Linked DNA regions of Homo sapiens: all the other regions are linked to region 1. Evidence: fine-mapped expression QTL. A gene starts in region 1. Each other region holds a variant in brackets. All regions are shown on one strand. Distances are from middle to middle. Region 1 holds the start of CDIN1 (CDAN1 interacting nuclease 1). Region 2 overlaps LOC105370769 (a long non-coding RNA gene). Region 3 overlaps CDIN1 (CDAN1 interacting nuclease 1). Region 4 overlaps CDIN1 (CDAN1 interacting nuclease 1).

The links.
Region 2: its variant is fine-mapped to the expression of CDIN1 in monocytes (Fairfax 2014, PIP 0.95).
Region 3: its variant is fine-mapped to the expression of CDIN1 in skeletal muscle (GTEx, PIP above 0.99).
Region 4: its variant is fine-mapped to the expression of CDIN1 in tibial nerve (GTEx, PIP 0.90).

Annotation. Positions count from the first base shown.
Region 1 is chr15:36,577,425-36,582,581 of GRCh38, forward strand. It overlaps CDIN1 (CDAN1 interacting nuclease 1), which reads left to right and starts at 2,202. Exons shown (of 11, transcript NM_001321759.2): 1 at 2,202-2,537. The coding sequence starts at 2,437. RefSeq lists an enhancer at 2,321-2,440.
Region 2 is chr15:36,433,717-36,438,873 of GRCh38, forward strand. LOC105370769 (a long non-coding RNA gene) reads right to left here. Exons shown (of 4, transcript XR_932111.3): 4 at 3,865-5,157. Among named protein-coding and RNA genes, the nearest start is that of CDIN1, 140 kb to the right of the region's middle. The variant C/T (reference allele first, on the strand shown) is at 2,401.
Region 3 is chr15:36,602,563-36,607,719 of GRCh38, forward strand. The region is part of intron 1 of CDIN1 (CDAN1 interacting nuclease 1); the gene reads left to right. Among named protein-coding and RNA genes, the nearest start is that of CDIN1, 26 kb to the left of the region's middle. The variant A/G (reference allele first, on the strand shown) is at 3,064.
Region 4 is chr15:36,689,316-36,694,472 of GRCh38, forward strand. It overlaps CDIN1 (CDAN1 interacting nuclease 1), which reads left to right. Exons shown (of 11, transcript NM_001321759.2): 6 at 2,370-2,449; 7 at 2,811-2,860. Among named protein-coding and RNA genes, the nearest start is that of CDIN1, 110 kb to the left of the region's middle. The variant C/G (reference allele first, on the strand shown) is at 2,933.

The DNA of each region.
Region 1 (5,157 bases):
GAAAAACTATGGTTGTTAAATTCAGGATCCACTGTTGGTATTGGATTTTGAGATGCCTCAGAAAATTAAAAGTAGTGAAGTTTTTAAAAACCAAGGCTAAAAGATTCTTTGAAATGTACAATATTCCCTTTAAAAAAAAATCCTTAACCTTTGGCTTAAGACAGTGTGACTATTTGATGTAGTAATTAAGCATTACTGAAAGTTGGCAAGAGCACTGACTCTGGAACCAAATTTCAGGAGTTTAAATCTTACTACTGCTACTTATCCTCATGACCTCTAGAAGTTCCTTAACCTTTTCATGTCTTAGTTTTTTCACTCTGTACAAAAGGGAAGAGGAGGATAACAGCAATAGTACCTGCCTGGCAGGAAGTTATGAGGATTAAGCGAGTCTGTGCATGGGGAGCCTGTAAAACAATACCTAGTAAACGCCCTGTCCATTTTTATCAAGTAGTCTTACTTAGCCTATTTATTTATGGCCAAAACCGCAGTTGCTCTTGCACCAACCTAATATTTCACATAGACTATCCTCTAGACACCACGCTATATAATCTTTTATTTGTACCAGCCTGTTAATCTTAAAAACAGCCCATGCCCGGGCGAAGTGGCTAATGCCTGTAATCCCAGTACTTTGGGAGGTAGAGGCTGGAGCATCACTTCCGGTCAGGAGTTTGAGACTAGCCTGGTCAATAAAGCGAGACTTCATCTCTAGAGAAAAATTTTAAAATTAGCCAGGTGTAGTGGCATGTGCCTGTAGTCCCAACTACTCGGGAGGCTGAGGTGGGAAGATCGCTGGAGCCCAGGAGTTCGAGGGTGCAGTGAGCCACGATGGAGCCACTGCACTCCAGCCTGGGCGACAGAGTAAGACTCCATCTCTACATCAAACATACACAAATAAAACACCTCCATGAATTAAATCAGTTTTACAGACAAAAGAAATGAGGCTTCGATGGATTAAGGAATTTATTCAAGGAGGTATATCTAAAACTTCCAACCCAGGCATTATTCCAGATGAAAAATTTTAAACCACTTACAGGTTCTCTAAAGTCTAAGCACCTTTGCTTTAGTTTGCTTAAATTGTTGAAATCAGAAGAGAAACACAACACATGACCTTCTAAGAACCAAACAGATTTTAGAAAAGAGATTAAATGAGGGACTGATATCCCAACAAATTGCTTTAGGAGAACTGAGATCCATTCACAATACATATAGAAAATAAAAAAAGATTGGCTCATTACTCCAAACATTTATTGAGCGCCTACTATTTTCTGAGAACTGGGGTTACAATAAGATGCGATTTTAGACCTTGAGCAGCTAACTGCAAGGAGTGAAAGTGACTTTTTTTTTTTTTTTTGAGACGGAGTCTCGCTGTCGCCCAGGCTGGAGTGCAGTGGCGCGATCTTGGCTCACTGCAAGCTCTGCCTCTCGGGTTCACGCCATTCTCCTGCCTCAGCCTCCTGAGTAGCTGGGACTACAGGCGCCCGCCACCACGCCCGGCTAATTTTTTGTATTTTTAGTAGAGACGGGGTTTCACCGTGTTAGCCAGGATGGTCTCGATCTCCTGACCTCGTGATCCGCCCGCCTCGGCCTCCGAAAGTGCTGGGATTACAGGCGTCAGCCACCGCGCCCGGCCAAAAGTGACATTCTTTACTGCCGGCTGTTTGATGACGTCGGATTTGTTTCAAGTCTGTTTCTCAACAAGGACAAAACTGCCTTCCACGCGATGTACAGAAGTTGTAGGGCTTCCTCAACACAAGCCAAATTATGTTTACAGCGACCCTAGTGAGTTTTCCTGCTCGGACCATGACAGACTTGGTAGAGTGAAGACATGGTTTCTCGGCAGGCCAGTCCACGCTCCGAGGAGCGCTCAAACTGGCGCGTTAGGAAGTGTATTCAAATCGCGCGCTCTGGCAGGGGCTTTCGGGGGCTCACGCTGAAGGATCGCGGGGCACTCGTGAGACCTGCCGCCTGGTCTGTGCGTCAGGCCGCCCTGGCTTCTAGTAATTGGGAGAGTACAAAGCATCCCTTGTTGACCCTTTGATCCTAGGTGGGCGATGCCCTGGATTCCTACCTGCCTACTGAAACTCTGGCGCGGCGCCTTTCCAAGGGCGGCCGCTACTTCCTGGTTGGTTTGCCCTTAACTGACATGGCGGCTAGTTGCCTTCGGCGCACCACTGCGGCTGCTCAGTAAGCCAAGCTAGGGCACTCTGGTGTACAGCCAGTCCCCGCCGCGGAGGTGCCGGTGGAGCCTGGGACCGGGCGAGTCTCCGCCCCGCTTTTGCAGCTAGGGGTGTGTTTCAGGGGGGATTGGGGCAAGCCAAGCAGGCGAGGACCCGGGCCTGTGCCGCTTTGCCTACCCCTCATCCCTCGGCACCAAGGCTACTTGAGCCCCAGGGTGTTTTTTCCTTGTTCCCGCCACCTCCTGGTCCCTGGCCCAACATGATACTGACCAAAGCTCAGTACGACGAGATAGCCCAGTGCCTAGTGTCTGTGCCGCCTACCAGGCAGAGCCTGAGGAAGCTGAAGCAGAGGTTTCCCAGGTAAGTGTCCATCTCTCCCCTCTCACAGCCCTTTGCCTGCAGCAGCAGTGCCTGGGCCGCCCAGGCAGCGCTTAGGAACCACGTGTCACACATGAGTGGGGAGGAACACCAGTGTCAGGCGTTAGGAGGTCGAGGTTGGCGAAAAAAGGTTTATTCTTTCACTCGCCTTCCACACAAAACTCTTAACGGTGAGTTCATGGCAGCCTTCCAAGGCCTTGCAATTAAATTCAAGTCAACAGATATTTATGGAAAACGTGGTACGTGCTAGGTGATGGGTGAACATAGTAGGTGCTTCATAAATGACCAGAGGTTAATTGACAGATAGTAGGAATGAATGATGGGTGGGAATATGAATTGTAGATTCGAAAGGAGCAAATGGAGGACCCTTTTCAATTGGCCGTTGGAAACAAACAAGGGAGCATAGAGGTAAAGCGGCTTCATACTGTTTGACTGTGGCTTGTACTGTTAACTGTGGAATTAAGTGACCTCAAGGGTTCTCAATCCAATCAGAGAGCAGGGTACCCAGGGATTCCACTCTTGGGTCATTGGCCATTTGAACAACCAGATCTAAAGTTTCTCCATATATGTTATGCATACACACATTCCGGGTGTATTTCATACTTCCTCCCCCAAACACTTCTTTTTTCAGCGATTTTAGAATTATCCAACTTTCTAAGAAAGGACTTTGGGAATTATGTAGATTTCTCATTTTAATGAAGTGGAAACTGAGACCCCAACATTACATGAGGAACCAGTTGAGGACAACCAGGTCACTGTATTTATGTTGTGTTAAAAGCAGAGAATGTTTGTTTACTTTTTTCCTAATGAAAAACCAAATCCAAACCTGTACCATTTTGTTTTGTGGCACTGAGCATGGTTATTCCTAATGGAGAGCTTCCCCATCCTTGACGTATTCAGTCCCTGAACAAACACGACAGAAGTAATTTCTTGAGAAAAGAAAGGTAATTGGATAATAGGTATCAAAGTACAAATTGAAGCATAAGTTTAAGTTCTGTTATGACTTTGCTTTTTGAAGGACTTGGTTTTCCTAGTCTGTAAAATGAAGGAGTCTCTTTTCAATATTATCCAGATTTGATTTAGGGCAATATTTATCCCTTTATAGCCTTTAGTATTTTATCAGACTTGCTAAGAAGGAACAAAATTGACACATAATTTAATTTTCTGTCATTAACTCTTGCCAGTTCTGCACATGAACAGTGAAATGGGTGAAGACTGGTCAGCCAAGGGAATAGGTAGATTTTTCTGGGCAGTTTTAAGAAAGAGCATACATTTTGATATTCTCCTCTCACTATGTATGCAATCACTTGTAATTTTGCTTTTTTTTCTCTTCCTCTCCCTCTTTTTCTCTTTTTCGTTCTTTTCTCTAGCAAATACCTTGTCTTCTCTATAATAAGTAAGTGTCTGTTACTTTAATCAACACTTACAAAAGCCTCCCTTCTGTCTGGTGTATTCTCTTATGCTCTTTTCTTTCTTATTCATGATATACTCAAATCTTTTTCACTTCTCCCAAATGCCATACAGGGAATAAATAACAACTCTCCTTCCACAGGAAACTTTATTTAGAGAGAGCTGAACTACTAATCCGCAAAAGAAGGGATTAAAGAGCTATTTAGGGCTGGGTGTGGTGGCTCACGCCTGTAATCCCAGCGCTTTGGGAGGCCGAGATGGGAGGATCACTTGAGGCCAGGAGTTCCAGATCAGACTGGGCAACGTAGCAAAACCCCGTCTCTAATAAAAATCCAAAAAATTAGCTGGGTGTGGTGGCATGTGCCTTTAGACCCAGCTACTCAGCTACTCCTGAGGCTGAGGTGGGTGAATCACCACATCAAGGTGATTGTTACCTTGTTGCATTACAATCCATTGGCCTATTTTGAACTTGAATGGATCTTTTACCCATGCCTGATTTGTTATCATCGTGCATTATTCCTTTGTAAAATGTTGCTTGTGAGTTGTGCAGATCTTACAAATGTCACCTTTCATTATACAATATCAAAAAATTACATTTGTTAATATCATCTCTAATCTCATCAGAAGTCTGTAAGATTTGAAGCTGTCAAGCTTGTGGTGATGGATATGAGCATTCCAGTATTTGAATTTTCCCTTGAAAGCTCAAATTTTATCATTGGCAACAAATGCTATTAGTTGTTTTCCTTGAAATGACAGGCTCACATTGTTTATTTTTGAGAAAGTGTCTGCCAGATACTTAAATCTGAATAATATACTTTGTTATCATTAATTCAAGTAAAAATGGTGTTCCCTAGAAAAAGTAGCTAGTTCAGCTCTCAAACAGTCATACAAGTGCTTTCCTGGGAGGCAACCATCATACTTTGATATGAAGTATATGTGCTTTGTATTTACTCTAGTCATACAGAATGTTAAAAGGTTGTGTATTCAAGGGTTGAGATTTAATGCAATTAATAAGAGAATATTCTTTAGTGAAAGTCTTGTTTTGTTTTGTTTTTCCTGCACGTGTGTGGCAGTGAATACAGTGACTACTAGTACAGTTATGATGCCTATGATTTGTGCCTTGTTTTATGCTCAGGAGCTGGCAGTTTTACTCACCATTGTTTTTGTACCATAAGTCCAAATGTGAATACAG
Region 2 (5,157 bases), 140 kb before region 1:
AAAATATATGCCATCTTATATGATTTAGTCAGGTGAACAGATCTGAAGGATATACAGATTTTCTGCATCAGGAAGGAGGATATGTTCAACCTACAAACATTTGGCCTCAGATCTTTTATGGGAGAAAAACAAAGCCAAAAAGCCCCCAAAATGATCATGAATATTCTCAAATAAAATTCCAAAATGGCAGAGCCAATTTTCACAAGTTCCTTTGCTTGCTAAAAAAGCACAAAGTACAAGCAGACAAGCAAATGTTTCAGAATTTGTGTTTTCCATAAATACAGAAATCTTGTAATTATCTCAAGAACCATACATTATTTATTTAGTTCCATGCCTTAATGAAGGAAGACTCAATGTTTATCATATTAAAATGGGAAGTTGAGGGGTAAGGTGGGGAGGAGAAAAAGCATGGTTCTTTTCCTAATGAATCTGGCCTTATGTTTCTTCAATTTTTTATCAGCAATTTTATGCTCTGCAGGTAGTAAACATAAATGGTGACAGCCAAACATGCATTTTGCATCATAACAAACCCATTGGATCTGCAAACAGTTGTTTAAGGTGCTTCTTTCCATCAGGAAAAACAATAGCATTTATTAGCAGTGTTTCACTCCACTCACATGATTTGTGTGTTCTTCACTCTCAAAGTGTCAGCTGTCAAATGAAATGATGGGGACTGACAGTTCAGAATTTTAAAAGTTCAGCTCCTTTCAAATGCATTAAATGAACAAGAGCTGCCTAATTTGGGCTGAAGAAAAAGCAACAAAAATCCCCTGTAAGTATGCAAGGTTTTATTCTACTTTTGCATGCTTAGTATGCATAGAGAATGTTAAATACTTTTCAGCTGGATACACTGTTAATTCTATGAGTGAGAAAGATTTCATTAGGTGAGCTTCAGGCAAGACTAGGCTACAAATGGAATTCCCTTTTATTTTCTGAAATTCACAGTATATGACCCATATCCAGTGATAAATGGTCTATAAATTCTCTTGCTGTATTTAATTGCATAAACTTCCATTATATTCTACTATTAACATGGGAACACTTTGACACAAGATGTCAGAAAAGGGAAAACGAATAAAAAAAAAAACCCTTTACTCTTAAAATCAAAATAATCTTCATGTCCCACAGAATCATGTTCAACATACAAGTTCCAAGCACACAATTTTAAATATTTTTTCAGCCAATTAGTTACTTTTAATTTTGGTAGTACAAAAATCTATTAATCACTATTTAATTATCTGGAGCTCTTGCCTGCCTAATTAGTGCTTTCCGTATTGCATCTTCAACTAAACTGGGGACCCTATCAACTCATTTATCTGATACGTATTTGGTGCACTGGTGAGTTAATTAATGAAAAAAGAAAAAAAATCTCATTTAGATGGTTCATTCAAAAAAAAAAAAAGCTTATTAAGCACTTTGAACATTAAATAAGCCGACTGATTATATTGGGTTTTCATTGCCCTAAAAAGCATTATATAAATGCAAAATCCCATGTGACATTTCTTGGTAAATATACATTGTAGAAGGAATCAGAAGAAGCAGTGATCAGTTGAGTAACAATCCCTCTTAAGTATACCGCCCGAGGCAGTGGGCTTTTGAAATCTTTTGTACAAAAATGAGGACAATAATTAGATACAAGATTTTATTTGGAATTTTTTCATGTTAGGAACGCTAAACATAATTATAAATGAAATTACATTGTTATATTCTAGGTAATGTAGTGTAAAATGGTCTATACTATAACTATGCTTATAATACTGAGGAAAACAAAGAGAAATTTCCTGAATCCAACCCATCCCTTTACGACATCTCCATGTTGCTCTTCCTTGCCAACAGGCTATGCACTTGTCCTCAGGCATCTAGCTAAGATAATGACACCCCCAGCGAGGCTTTCATAAGCATCCTCAGTCTAGGTTAGGGTCCCCTCCTAGATGTTCTCACAGTACCTAGACATAAACCTTTGTCTTTATATTCACTATGAAGCAGTGGGTGGTGGAGCACCATGGTAAAGAACATGGCTTTGGCCTCAGAAAAAGCTAGGTACAAATCTAGTGTCAGCCACCAACCAGATTGTTAGAATAAAGGAAATGATCTAAGTAAAGCATCTAGTGTGGTCTCTGACACATAGTAAATGTATCATAGTAACTAGTCTTTAAAAAATTTTTTTAAAGATCTCCGCTGTACTGTTTGCTCAGGACAGTAGAGAGTGATGTGTCTCCTACTAGATCCTGAGCTTTCTGCATGATCTAGCTCTATATCTCCAGGGCCTAGCACAGTGTCTGATGGACAGTGAGCACCCATATATGCATGTGTAATAGATGGATAGAACAATGAATCTGCAGCAAAGGAGTCTAAGCAATTTAAGAATAAAATAAGCAATCTGAAGCCAAAATGCCCCTC[C/T]TTCTTACATAGCACAGTGACAACTCCGAGGCACAAATGTTTAAATGCTTAGAACATAGTTCACTTTCAAAAACATATTAGCTATTTAGCTGTTATTAATCCCTGCATTGTTTTCTCTGAATCTTCAGTAGATTGTCAGATAGACACAGGTATCTGATTCCTCATCAAGAAATCCCCCGTAGGAAATCAAAAGTTGTCATAGCATGAAAATATTCACTGGTGAACTGAGCAATTGTAAAATTAGTAGCAACCCAAACTCCCCTCTGCAATTAATATAGTGCCTACCTTAATCCACAAAATCAACATCTTGATCAGTTATAATCCTGCTAACAATCTGATAGTTACAACTTCCCATGTAAATAGAAAAAAAACCTAAAAAGTTAAATTGAAAATCTTTTCAAAATGCAGGACTTCATACAATTTATTCAAGTGATATTAGAGACTTGCTCAAGTCACAGGCAAAGATTTTGTGGCTCCATCAAGGTCAGAAAATTGAAAATAGGGAAAATGAAAAAGATAATGAGATTCAAAAGGGAATAAGCTAAAAACCAAATAATTAGGAAAACTCATTTGAAAATTTAAAAAGCCATGGAATATCTTTGCACAATTGATTCTTTTTATGAGCATGATCTTCAAGTCAAGTACCCAGTGGAGAATTTAATACCCTAAAATTATGCTGGGAAGATAATTGAAAAAAATTAAGATTTGGCTAATTTTTCATTTGTTCTAAGGACTAGAGAATCGTTTTCATTGTTAAGCATTTTTTTTAATTTTTTTCATTATGTTCTATTTTATTTTTAGATAAAGCTCAACCAAAGCTTTCCATTTTCCACTATTGTCCACAAAAGGTTGGCTTCAATTTTGAATAGATTCACTCTAAGTGGCCTTTTCTGGTACCAGTCACACACTGATTTGAGAGAGAGGATTGTTCTTTGAAGTGGACACCACCAGCACTCCTCCTGCCACATTCCACTGTCCTCTTATGGCTTCCAGAGGACCCTAAGAAGCTAATGAGCCATCTTCTATTCCAGTTCATGGGCAATGCATGTTTTAAGGAGAAAAGCAGGGGGAGTTGTGCACAGAGATGTTAGCGAGGCAACTCTCTTCTCAAGAAGAGTTCCTCGGCATATTACAGTCCCCCTTTCTGGGAGCCCTTTCTTTCCAGAGAAACAAGATGATGGAAAGATATGAAACCTTCTGCACTGAGTATTTAATACACAGTGACTCCATAACTAAATCACATTCAGGGCCAGATACTGCAATGCTCCAAAGAGTCAACAAGAACCATGTCTTTCTGGACATAATATGTAGACTATTCCAGAATGCTTTAAATCCTCTCCCTTCTTTTTTTCTCTCCTTACATAACCATTGGTTGGAAAAGAAAAGAGAAAATTTATAAAACATTTTTAATTCATATTTCTCTCTTACGTTGAAATTACAAAATCACAAAAAGGAGAAATGCATAATACCAAACAGTTTATATTTTATTATAACATATTCAAGTTCAATATTCTTTGAAATGATTCTATGGTCTGTATTTTTTATCCAACGATATTTACTTTGTATCATTGGTAATTATGTACTACACATCCTGTGTTTTTCAACTGTGACAAGGTAAGTACTTTTGTTTCTATTTTAGTGATGCCTTTAAAGAAAAATTCAAATACATTCATCAGAATACCAAAGGTAATTTTTTTTCTCAAGCTCCCTGTCAAGATAGTTCAGCTCTAATTCAGGCAAATTCCTGACAGATATCAGAGTTCTATTTACTGATTATCTATTCTTCCCATTGGGATCATAAGATTTTAAGTGAAAAAATCTAAAAGATTTATTGCTAATGGCATTCTACAAATGTTATCTTTGTTCAGAGTAAAAGTAATATATGATCCTGGCTTTGTAGAGCATCTTTAATGTTCCTTTTTTGAATATGTATAACTCATTTAGAGACCAAGAATAGACAGTAACTCATCATTTTTCCTACCTGCCTTAAAATATCTGCATTTTGTCTGTTTGAAAATAATACAAACTTGTGATTTAATTGATGTCATAACTTCGATTCATCACCACATTCATTATAAACAAAGAGGCTCTGGATAATGAACAAAATGCTTATTGTTCACCAGAAGAAAGGGCATAACATGTTATATTTACATTTATGTCGTGTCTTATTACTAAGTCTGTATAAACCATCTCCCTTCATTATTTCTGAATGGGAGACTGATGATAAGTGCTGTTTTCAAGATTTTTTTAATCCTTTTTATTTGTCTAGCTAATTTGTGTGCTGAAGCATTGCAAAGCTAACTCTATGTTTTGCTCGTTAAGTTATTAGGGATTTGTAACTCCCGAAAATCAAGAATGAGTTCCTAAGTGTAACATTTGCATGGGTCGACAGCTTCAGGGGAGAGAGGTCAGCTGCCCCAGTGAAGGAAGAAGAAATCTGTCTGTACGATCCTAATTTGCTTTGAATAATAGACATTGGGCTTGGAATTGGAATGATTTGTTGTTAGGTTAAGCAACAGGGAAGCTTATGGCTTATTTTTACTCCTGATACAAGTGAAGCAATGGTTGAGTAATGAGACAGCCATAGATAATCATAATGATACTAGGCAATGAATTGTGTGTGCCTGGGCGATAGTGCAGGTTTATCAGACTATGATGGCCAATAAGCTATTACAAACTATAAATATTCAGATTAGTCAAATCTTTGTTACATCTTTCAATAGCTACTGGCATGTTTTTCCCCTCCCACTTTATAAT
Region 3 (5,157 bases), 25 kb after region 1:
TGTATTTATCTGTGTTTCTAGACGTGGTGGCCACCCTGTATTTTGGTGAGATGTGAGATGTGACTGTGAAGTTGGTTTTCTTGTGTAACTGGTAAAGTGGTTCTAAAGTGATTCTTAAAGATAAGTTGGGCTGGGCGCAGTGGCTCACGCCTGTAATCCCAGCACTTTGGGAGGCCGAGGCGGGCAGATCACGAGGTCAGGAGATCGAGGCTCGAGCCATCCTAGCTAACACGGTGAAACCCCGTCTCTACTAAAAAAAAATATATATACAAAAAATGAGCCAGGCGTGGTGGCAGGCACCTGTAGTCCCAGCTACTTGGGAGGCTTAGGCAGGAGAACGGCGTGAATGCGGGAGGCAGAGCTTGCAGTGAGCCGAGATCATGCCTCTGCACTCCAGCCTGGGTGACAGAGACTCCGTCTCAAAAAAAAAAAAAGGTAAGTTGTGTTTTTGAGCCATGGCAGCATCATTGGTGCTAAATATACAAATCACACTCCTCTGGGATTATTACTTTGGCCAAAGATAATGTGAGTAAATTAGCTCCTTCTTTTAGCTGAAAAAGTTTATTTTGTTACTTTATCCTTGTACTTAGTAAGTGCAGACTCTCCTTCCTTAACTATTAGCCCTTATTTTATGCCCACCTTTTCTCTGTGCTCCCCAAATGTAGACTGACTACTCAGAAGCTAAAGACACATTCCCTTTAACTAACCTGTTTCCGTTACCCGTCTCTCTGGTGGTTGTTTATAAGGCAGGCTTCTTAGAGGAAGAAGAAAAGTAAAGGGTTAGATAATCTAACTAGGCAGTTAATCCTTGAAAACCAGAGTGGTAGCTCAATTTAGGATTTTCAGTTACATTTTAAAGCATTTCTTATTTGCTTAGAAAGGGAGACTATAGTAATTTTTGAATTTTATCCTATAGCTTACAAAGCATTTTCATAAAACTTTCTCCTTTTTCTGGTGGTAGTGATGGAGGGGGTTGGAGATACTTCTTTAGGCCTCTATTTGGGATAGGGTTTGAAATAGGATGAAACTTATTTGCTATTTATTTTTATTTTCTTCCTGTGTTTCTTTCTGTATCATATAAGCTCCTACTCTCCTATTATATCATTGAAACTCATGCTTTTTATCAGAATAAAGAGGTAAAATTCTTCCTTGTCTTTGGAAGGGACTTATACTTACTGTAGAGTTGGAGGAATCACTACAAAAGGCTGAGTAAAACAGAGAACCCTGAAAAAAGAGTTATTGTCCATTTATTTAGCACAGTTTCTGTGGTAGGGAGGCAACATTAAACATTATTTTAAAAACTGCATTTGTGAGATATTAATAGATGCCTTGGTTTGCTGCAAATTGGTTAAACTTTTTTTTTGGTAATATTTAAATCATAGAGATAGGACTTTTAGTAACTAAGTGTAGGTAAACACTATTTCATGATCAGTAATTATATATCTGGTTTTAAAGCTGTTTCAACAAAATGTTATTGGAAGACAGATTTTCTGCTACAGATGTTAAAACCTTTGGAATATGTGGGGCTGAAAGGACCAGTTCGGGTGTGATCTTAAAATTGGGCAGCTTGCCTTCTGCTTCAATGCTTGGTTCCACCCTGAAGAGGGGAGTTACACACCACTATGTGCACTTGACACATGCAAATGCTAAATTCAGTAGCAGCATGAGGTCTCTGTCATTAACAGTAATTTATGTAATGAAAGCCACCTGGCTTTTTTTTTTTTATAATTAATTGCTTGTAAATAATAAATTTAAGTGTAATTTATGGTTTTCTAAATTTGATTACCATGTAGACCCAACAGCAAACCCAAAAAAATTATCAATTCCATAATGTTCTTCTATGACTTTTAAAAGGTACACACACACACACACACACACACACACACACACACACATTTTAGAGTAAACATCAGATGAAAATACTTTTGGGGAGCAATAAGAATGTAATCAACTCCTGTTGGTTTTATTCAAGTTGGAATGCTAATTTTGAAATAGTCTCATTAAGTTTTATATTATTATGTCAGCTGACCTTTTAAAAGTATTTACACATATAGTTAGTACACTCAGAAGAAAGTATACCTACTTAACAGTAATATAGTAAAACTCCTTTAAAAAAAGCTTTTTCCCTATTTTGTAAAATTCCAATTATGTTTTCAAAAGAATTTATATATGAAGAAAAAGCACCTAAGCATATATGATGATATTTAACATATTGTGGTGATAATAAGAGGCTCTTTGCCTAATAGATTTACCAAGCACAATATCTTAGTTTAAAATGGCTTTACGGTAGTTCTTTTTGTTTATGTGGTCACATATATCAGCTGCCAAAGAATTGTGTTTTCTGACATAGAAAATATCTAAGATTCACATGGTTTAAAGAGAAAGGGGGATTTAGACCCTTGTCCTCTGTGCTTCTCTTTCATTAAAAAAGAAAGGAAAGACGGAAGTAAGGAAGGACATAATTTATGGCTTTATGTTTAAGATTTAACTACTGTTTAATGATGATTATATCAGACTTTCTCAAACTTTGAATCTGATTTCTTAAATTCATACCTCTTTCCTAGATGCATTTCTTTTAAATATCTATATTATTATTTTGTACTATAGCCGTGAAATCACTATCATTGTCAGTGTGTATAATACTTTTGTAAAGGATTAACAGATTAAAGGAGAATTTGAGTAGCTTTGACCTACAAATTTATAAACTGCAAAGACTTTTCTCCATATGTGACTAGCAGCATTTTTACTTCACCATGATTTAATAAAGTTTATATAAATCAATAATGCTGTTTTTGTAACTTGTATTTTTTTTTTAATCTGGAATTCTCTCTGTTCTTTGTAGAAACTCAACTAGATTATGAAAAAGTTAGTTCTGTTAAATAGCAAAATTGCATGTTGACTCCTTGCAAGATTGAGAGAGTCAAGTGAGGAGGTTTCCGCGTTAGCTGGAATTGTCTATAAAGAATAAAAATTTTGGCTTCTGTGTGTAGTCAGAGTGTGACCACCATCCATCACCTCAATAGCAGACATCAGATTTGTTCATCACTTGGTTTCCAAGGTCTA[A/G]TAATCCCTCAAGAATTTAGAGTGTTGTTGACTGTCCCCATTTACATCAGTGAAGGCTTTGCAACAGGTGCAGCTGTGTATACTAATTGCAGGGTGTGCCTAATCTGTCCAGAAGGGAGAGTACCTCCAAATTTGGTATCTTAAAGAGTGGAGTGACCTTTTAAAGTCCCAGAATGAGAATTGCCAACAATTCCAACAGGCTAATTATACCCACAAGGAGTTGTGAAGTGCTTTTAAGTTTTCCTGTACACCTAAAAGTTCAGTGAACGGCTTGAAGTCATTAACATATGACAGATGCACTCCCTTTTCAAGAGCTTGTATGATAAGTTTTGATTGTAGAAGTGGGAATTTGACCTCTAGCTTATCACTTGCTTCATTAGCGTGCTTGAGGACAAGGAGTTTTTTTTTTGTTTTTTGTTTTGACGTGAGTGTTATCTTACTCATGTTCCAGAATTCTATCTGCCTCCTTCTCTCTGCTGATCTGAAGTCACAGTAGATAACCTTGATGCTGGTTTTTTAAAAGCATCACGCATTGTGTAGTGTTACATATATTTTATATATAAATATATACACTATGAATATGTTTCTGAGCATGGGTCTTTCAAAGTTTTGATTCATTATTTTAGATATACTACCTCCCATGTGATTTCTGTTCTTTTTCATGGAAAAGGAAGAAATACACTTTTTGGCTCATAAAGATGACTGAAAGTCCGACTTCTACATTTCCACAAACTGACCACTTCTTGAAGTGAATGAGAATAAGGGAATGAAGTTTGGGACTCTGCACACACATGGAGGAAAGTATGCTACCCAAAGAATGAACGAATGCTAGAGGTGTACCCATAAAGAGATGCGGAAATGAAGCTTAGAAGGATTTCATGTGGTAAACTCTGTGACTGCAGCACTTAAATGAAATTGCTTTTTATTATCTGGTTGAAAAATCATCCAAAATAAGCCATACAGGACAAAGGCTAAAAAGCTTCTGGGTAAAAGCAGTCTTGGATAATTTAATTTTCTCCCACAGCAGTTCTGTATTTACCTGCTTATGATGTCTGTTTCAATTCCTTAAAAGACTGTATACCTAAACTTTATTTTAAAATGTTTTCTGTTAAATTAAAATCCTCTGTTTATAGAAGTCACTATTCCCTTAACCTCTAAGGGGGTTATGTAAATTTTATATTCCCTAAGGGCACAGTCATATTTAGCTGTGTTCCTGTCAATTACCAGCAAGCTCTTTTTGTACAATTAGGGGGTGGTTAATTTACTCTAGTAAGGTTGCCACCTGTCTAGGGATTAACCCAAACAGGTTGGAAGTCACAGAGAGACTTTTGAATTGAGGTTTAAAGCAGTAGGAGTTGATTTATTAACTCTCTACTACCATTTTGGTGGCATTTTCTGGGTTGATCAGTGGTACTTGTGACAGAAGGTGTTTTCTTGGTCCCTACGTTTGTGAGGTTGGAAAAGTACATTGTTAAAATTTTAAGTGTCACTGGAAATCTGTGAACAGTAGGTGTAATCATGCCTGGTACCCATGAAAATGAACTGGAAAGATCTTCCACTCCTCTCCATTGTTTCCAGTCTTATAATATCTTATCAAATTGTTGGATCAGTGGGAAGTGGCATCCTTAAATAATGTGGATAGTTTGAAGACTAGGATTGTGTTCAATGGAAATAACATCTTATCTGGTGTGTCAGGAAAATAAAACATGAAGAACATTGATGATATAGTTCACAGGAGAATACGAGGAGGTAATTTTACAGTATTTAAAATAAGCTGTGAGAAATACCCAATTTATTAGTTTAAAGAAACATGCCTTAAGTTTTCTGATACAATATGTAAAATATAATAGCTTACTTCATATGATCTAATATGCATTCCATCTGGAGTCTTGTTCCACTAGAAGTGTGCCCGCGATCATGACTGACTTCTTTGAGATCTGTGTGTGTGTCTCTTTCCCTCCCTCCCTTCCTCCCTCTTAACTTCCTTTTATTCCTTCTTCTGTCTTTCCTTCATTCCAGTTTAAAATTAAGTGTATTGTACGTTATATAAGTATTCTTTTTTCAATTATAACCTGTTATGGATATGCAATTCAC
Region 4 (5,157 bases), 110 kb after region 1:
TTGTTTTATTATTTTAGCCAGGAGTTTGCATATAGTTTGATATGAGATCTGTAATTTTTATAGGATAGCGTTCTTAGTCATGGCCACTTACATATTAGTGATCTCTTCCTCACATGGGTTCATGAGAGTTGGAATGTACCATGACTGGGGTCCATACAGAGAAGGTGCTCCTATTTTCTTAGGCCTCTGCTGGCATTATGGGCAACATAAAAGAATGTGTCTGCCATTACCATGTGGTGACTCGAGTGGCAGGCCAGAGAGAGTTCCCTCTAGAAGGTAATGAAAGGTATGGACAACTGCTTTGGTCCCCTCTGACTGGCCAGGCCTTAGAATTAGGTTGGGAATACTGAGTTTCCCAGGCACATTATTTTTTTAATACTATTGCTGCTGTAATCTTTTCTTTTATAAGAAGATGATTCATTGTTTCCTATTCCCGATATTTTTACCACTTATCAGTGGTAATTGCTTTCAGAAATAATTGAGTCCAACCCTATGGTTTGTATGAAGTAAATACCTAAGTTTGATTTGATTCTTACTATTACTTGAACTTAGCAAAATAGTGCTTTAGCTGTCTTCTCTAGAGACCACACAAGAACACTTTATTTCGGTAGTCAGCTTAAATAATATTTTCACTTTCTACAGATAGCAATGGGCATTAAACTTGGGAAGCTATGTAACTTGCCAAGGTTGCAGAGCCAGTTGTAGAGATAGGGCTGGATAGGATAGCTGGGTGATGCTCTTTTGGAGATTCCATATGACCTTTTCACTTGCAGTGCAAACACGTGTTCACAAATGGCTAAGTACATAAGTGTTGCTATAAGCATGTAGTTATATGACTAACAGTGGGCAGTAATTAAAATAATCATGCTTCATTTTTTCTTTGCAGACCCAATACTATTTTTAAGTGAATAAGATGTAATTTCCTTATTTATTTCCACAGTATTTACTAACATTTTTTTCTTTTTTTTTTTGAGACAGAGTCTCGCTCCGTTGCCCAGGCTGGAGTGCAGTGGCTCGATCACTGCTCACTGCAACCTCCGCCTCCCGGGTTCATGCCATTCTCCTGCCTCAGCCTCCCGAGTAGCTGGGACTACAGGCGCCCACCACCACACCCTGCTAATTTTTTGCATTTTTAGTAGAGACGGGGTTTCACCTTGTTAGCCAGGATGGTCTTGATCTCCTGACCTCAAGATCCACCCGCCTCGGCCTCCCAAAGTGCTGGGATTACAGACGTGAGCCACCGCGCCTGGCCACTAACATTTATCTTATGTATCAGTGTTCTTATAGTATAGAGCTTGATAAAGAACATAATCTTAAAAGAAAACAAGTTAGACCCGAAATTATCTCAGAACTTGAATGATGATAATTAGATAATTATTCAGTATGCATTTTAATTTGTGCTTGTGTGGATCAGACCATAAGCCATTTTGCTAAATTGTGGTGAATAATTCCACTGGAGGCCTTGAAATAATCGATACCTAGGCAACACGTGACTTAGCTTCAGCCTAGAGACCTGCCCTTCTCCCATGCATTAAAAGGAATTCTGGCTACTGTGGCTGCCACATGCCTAGTGAGCAGCGAGGTCAGGATCTCCTACCTTGCTTTCCAAAGGATGTCACTTGCTATAGCACCTTCATCAGATGCCTCCCTTAGTGCCCCCTCTTCTTCTATAGCAGTTCCCTTGGGGTTCAACTTAATTTGCAAGTTGAGGCATATTTTGGGTGGAAAACTTGTGTGTGTGTGTCTCTCTCTGTATATATTTTCCTTATTTAAGATTCTCTCAATTCAGTCAGTTTTACCTACTTTCCTCACTTGTGGAATGGAGATAGGATTTTATGGCAGTTGATGAGAATTATTTTGGAAAGGTTTAGAATTAGAAGATTCTTTCATGGCTGAAAGCCATTTTAATTGATATAATTAAAGCATATGTATATGAAGAGTTTAGTGAAGACAGGTCAGATTCAAAGACTTCAGATCTGACCTGTCTTCATTAAACTCTTCATATACATATGCTTGGTTATAAAATAACTACCTGCAAAAGGTAAATATTTTCTGATTTTTTTTTTTTTACCCCAAATGGGCTTTTCGGAAGCTTATTTATCTACAAAAGAGACATATGCTTTAGGTCTGTACTTGTTAATTTACCTTGGAAAAATTAGGTCATCATCAAATCTGGTAGTGTGGCTTATAAACTTGGCAAAATGGTCTAATTAAAAGCTTCTGTTAGATTATAGAAAAAGGAAAAAATGATTAATGCCAGTCATATTTTTGTTTTCATGGTTTGTGTATATGTAGATATATGTCACTCCTCATGTTGCATTAAAAGTATGTTGACTATCTGCTAACAGTTCATCTCTTTTCTTCTACAGCCTCCAAGTCTATTATAAATAGTATGCTACGGGACCCTTCTCAGATTCCAGATGGAGTTCTAGCAAATCAGGTCTATCAGGTATTAATCACAGCTGTCTATTTTCAGTGGCAATGCTGTTATCTGCCTAGCAGAGTAAAGGATTTTAAACCTCATTTAATTACTGTCATCATAAACTATCACTGAGGTCAGGGTGCACCATAAATGGCAATGCAGTATTTGCGAGAAGAGCATTTCACTTTTTAATAGCTTGCTTTTATAGTGAATAAAAAGCATGCAATTTTTGTTTTCTGTGATTAAATCCGAACCGCCTTTTGATAGCTTTCTTTTTTTGGGGGGCGGGGGTGGGGGAAGAAAAGTAATTACTGCTTTTAGGATATTGTTTACTGTAATAGTTTTTGTAGCCGCCCCACCCCAGACCCCTTTTCTTATTTGTCTGCAGTGCATTGTGAACGACTGCTGTTACGGACCACTAGTGGACTGCATCAAGCAGTATCCTTTCCCATAAAATTTTAGGTGCGCAATTGACGAGCTTAGACTCAGTGGAGATGTGTCTAGCTTTAA[C/G]CTGACATAAAGTTCTGCTTCACAAAACACATTTCATACTCTTCTATTTTACATTCAATCAACTGGAGGGTCACTACAGACCATTCTTTTCTACAGCTTAAGAAATATCAGGTAGACCACAGGAAGATGTCAGTTCAGCAGTCACACATTCACATGCTTCTTTCAAACTGCCTGGTTTTCAATGAGTTTACAGGTACAGAGTCATTAGGCAGGTAACGTAATGTCTTGGAATGTATCTACCCATCCCAGTAAACATTTTTTAAAAATATAACAAATTTCCATTTAAAATGAGCCAAATTTTGTTGAATTTACGAGAATAAATTTAGAGCCTGGAGTTAAAGGAGGTTGTGATTAAAATGCTTCCAGAGACATCACATTTTAAAGGCAACAGATTCTTATTGCTTAAATGCTGATTACAATCTGAGCCGGCATTTGGATTCCTAATAAACATTTTTAGAGAAATCAAGTTAATTTTTCCTCCTGGAATACATTTAAGGTTGTGAAAACAGATGTCCAGTCACTTTTCATTAAAGACATTGAGATTACTAAAGAGTTAATGTTCACTTTTTAAAACAAGATTGAACAGACAGTAACTACATAAAGTAGGACATTATTAATCAATAAATTTAGTAGTACTGTGGCAACAGCAAGGTTTTTGATAATCCTCAAAGGTGCTATTTAAATGGTAAATAATGAGTAATTTTTATGAGAATAATTTCTATCCGAGTCCATGAATTTCACCCCTCTTAATAATATAAACATGTCCCTCCTGGTATGGATTTTGTTAGCATGGATGGCACTGTGATGAATTGTGACTCAGTAATTACTAGTTAGGAGGCTTTTTGTTGGAAACTCCTGCTAGTCAAATCGTGTACATGTATGTGTTTATATTCCACCTTCTTTCACAAAGGCTTAGAGTCGTAACATTTTTAATAAGAAAATCATGCCTATATAAGTAAAGTTAATCTTTGATGAATAACCTTTGAACAGAGCCCTCTTACAAGAATATTCAGTATTGAAGATACAGCCCTTTATGTATTTCTCCTCCAAGTCTGTTTCTCCAGTCTAGCTTAAATTAGTAAAAACACACAGCATTATCCCAAGCTCACCTTTTTATTAAACCAAAGTGAAATTGTACTTCTATATTCAGTATAAAATTAATGATAGTGTTAGAAACTGTAGGAGTACCAACCTTATGTTGCTAACACTGAGAAAGTTTAGCACATTCATATATCAACTAACACCATCTCAGAGTATCTGGGGTTGAATTACATGTTAATTTTAAAGCACATAAAATAGTTAAAAATCAATTTAAAGTTAAGGTTTTAAAAGCATAATGTCTTTTGAAGGATTGCATATTGATTTTAAATATAACTATCTAATTATGTATGCACGGACTAAAGTATGAAGTCAACTGCTTTGTAAATGCCAGGAGGCTATTTTTCAGTAATAGTTGAGATGCTTACGGGAAACTAGATTGCTGTATTGCTGGTGAAGAAAATGGCTTGTGAGGTTATTTACAAGTTTTGCCCATGGTCACTGCCATACATCAATAATAGGTATTATTATAGACAAAGTCTAAGTGTTTTTGCTTATACAGCATTATAAATTCTGTCTGGAGTATTTTCCTTACATTTTTGCCACCATTCACTTTCCTTTTTTGGTTGTGTTATTGCCAGTAGAATTTAATGTAGTACATGATTTCAATTGATAAAGATAATGACGTATGTCTATAAATTACATTCACCGACTAGGTTATAATTTTTGCAGTTTCATTATGTCTGTTGCCAGTAAAACTACAGATTTTATAAGTTTTATTTTCTAGACTTTGCATTTCATATATGTTTATATCAAGCAAAGCATAATTAAGAAACATATCTTTCCAAAATTTCAACTTGGTGATTGCTTTTGTCATGCAAAATAAAACAGGCTGGGAAGTTTACAGAGAAACTGATGTTGTCTCTGCATTGAAGTAGTAGCAGTTTCATATAATGTATAAATGCACTTGCATAGATGTTTCCTAGACTGATCAGCATAATTATTTTATTTCACACTGAATAAAAATTATTGTTTTTCCATGTGAGTAAATGTGCTGTTTGTTTTTCTGATAGTTTAGTAATATTTACATTGCTTACTCTCAGTAAATTACATCATGATGTGAGAAAGAAAGCACACATTCAGTAAATAAGATAGGTGCTAAACCTTCTTAGTGCCTTATGAAAATG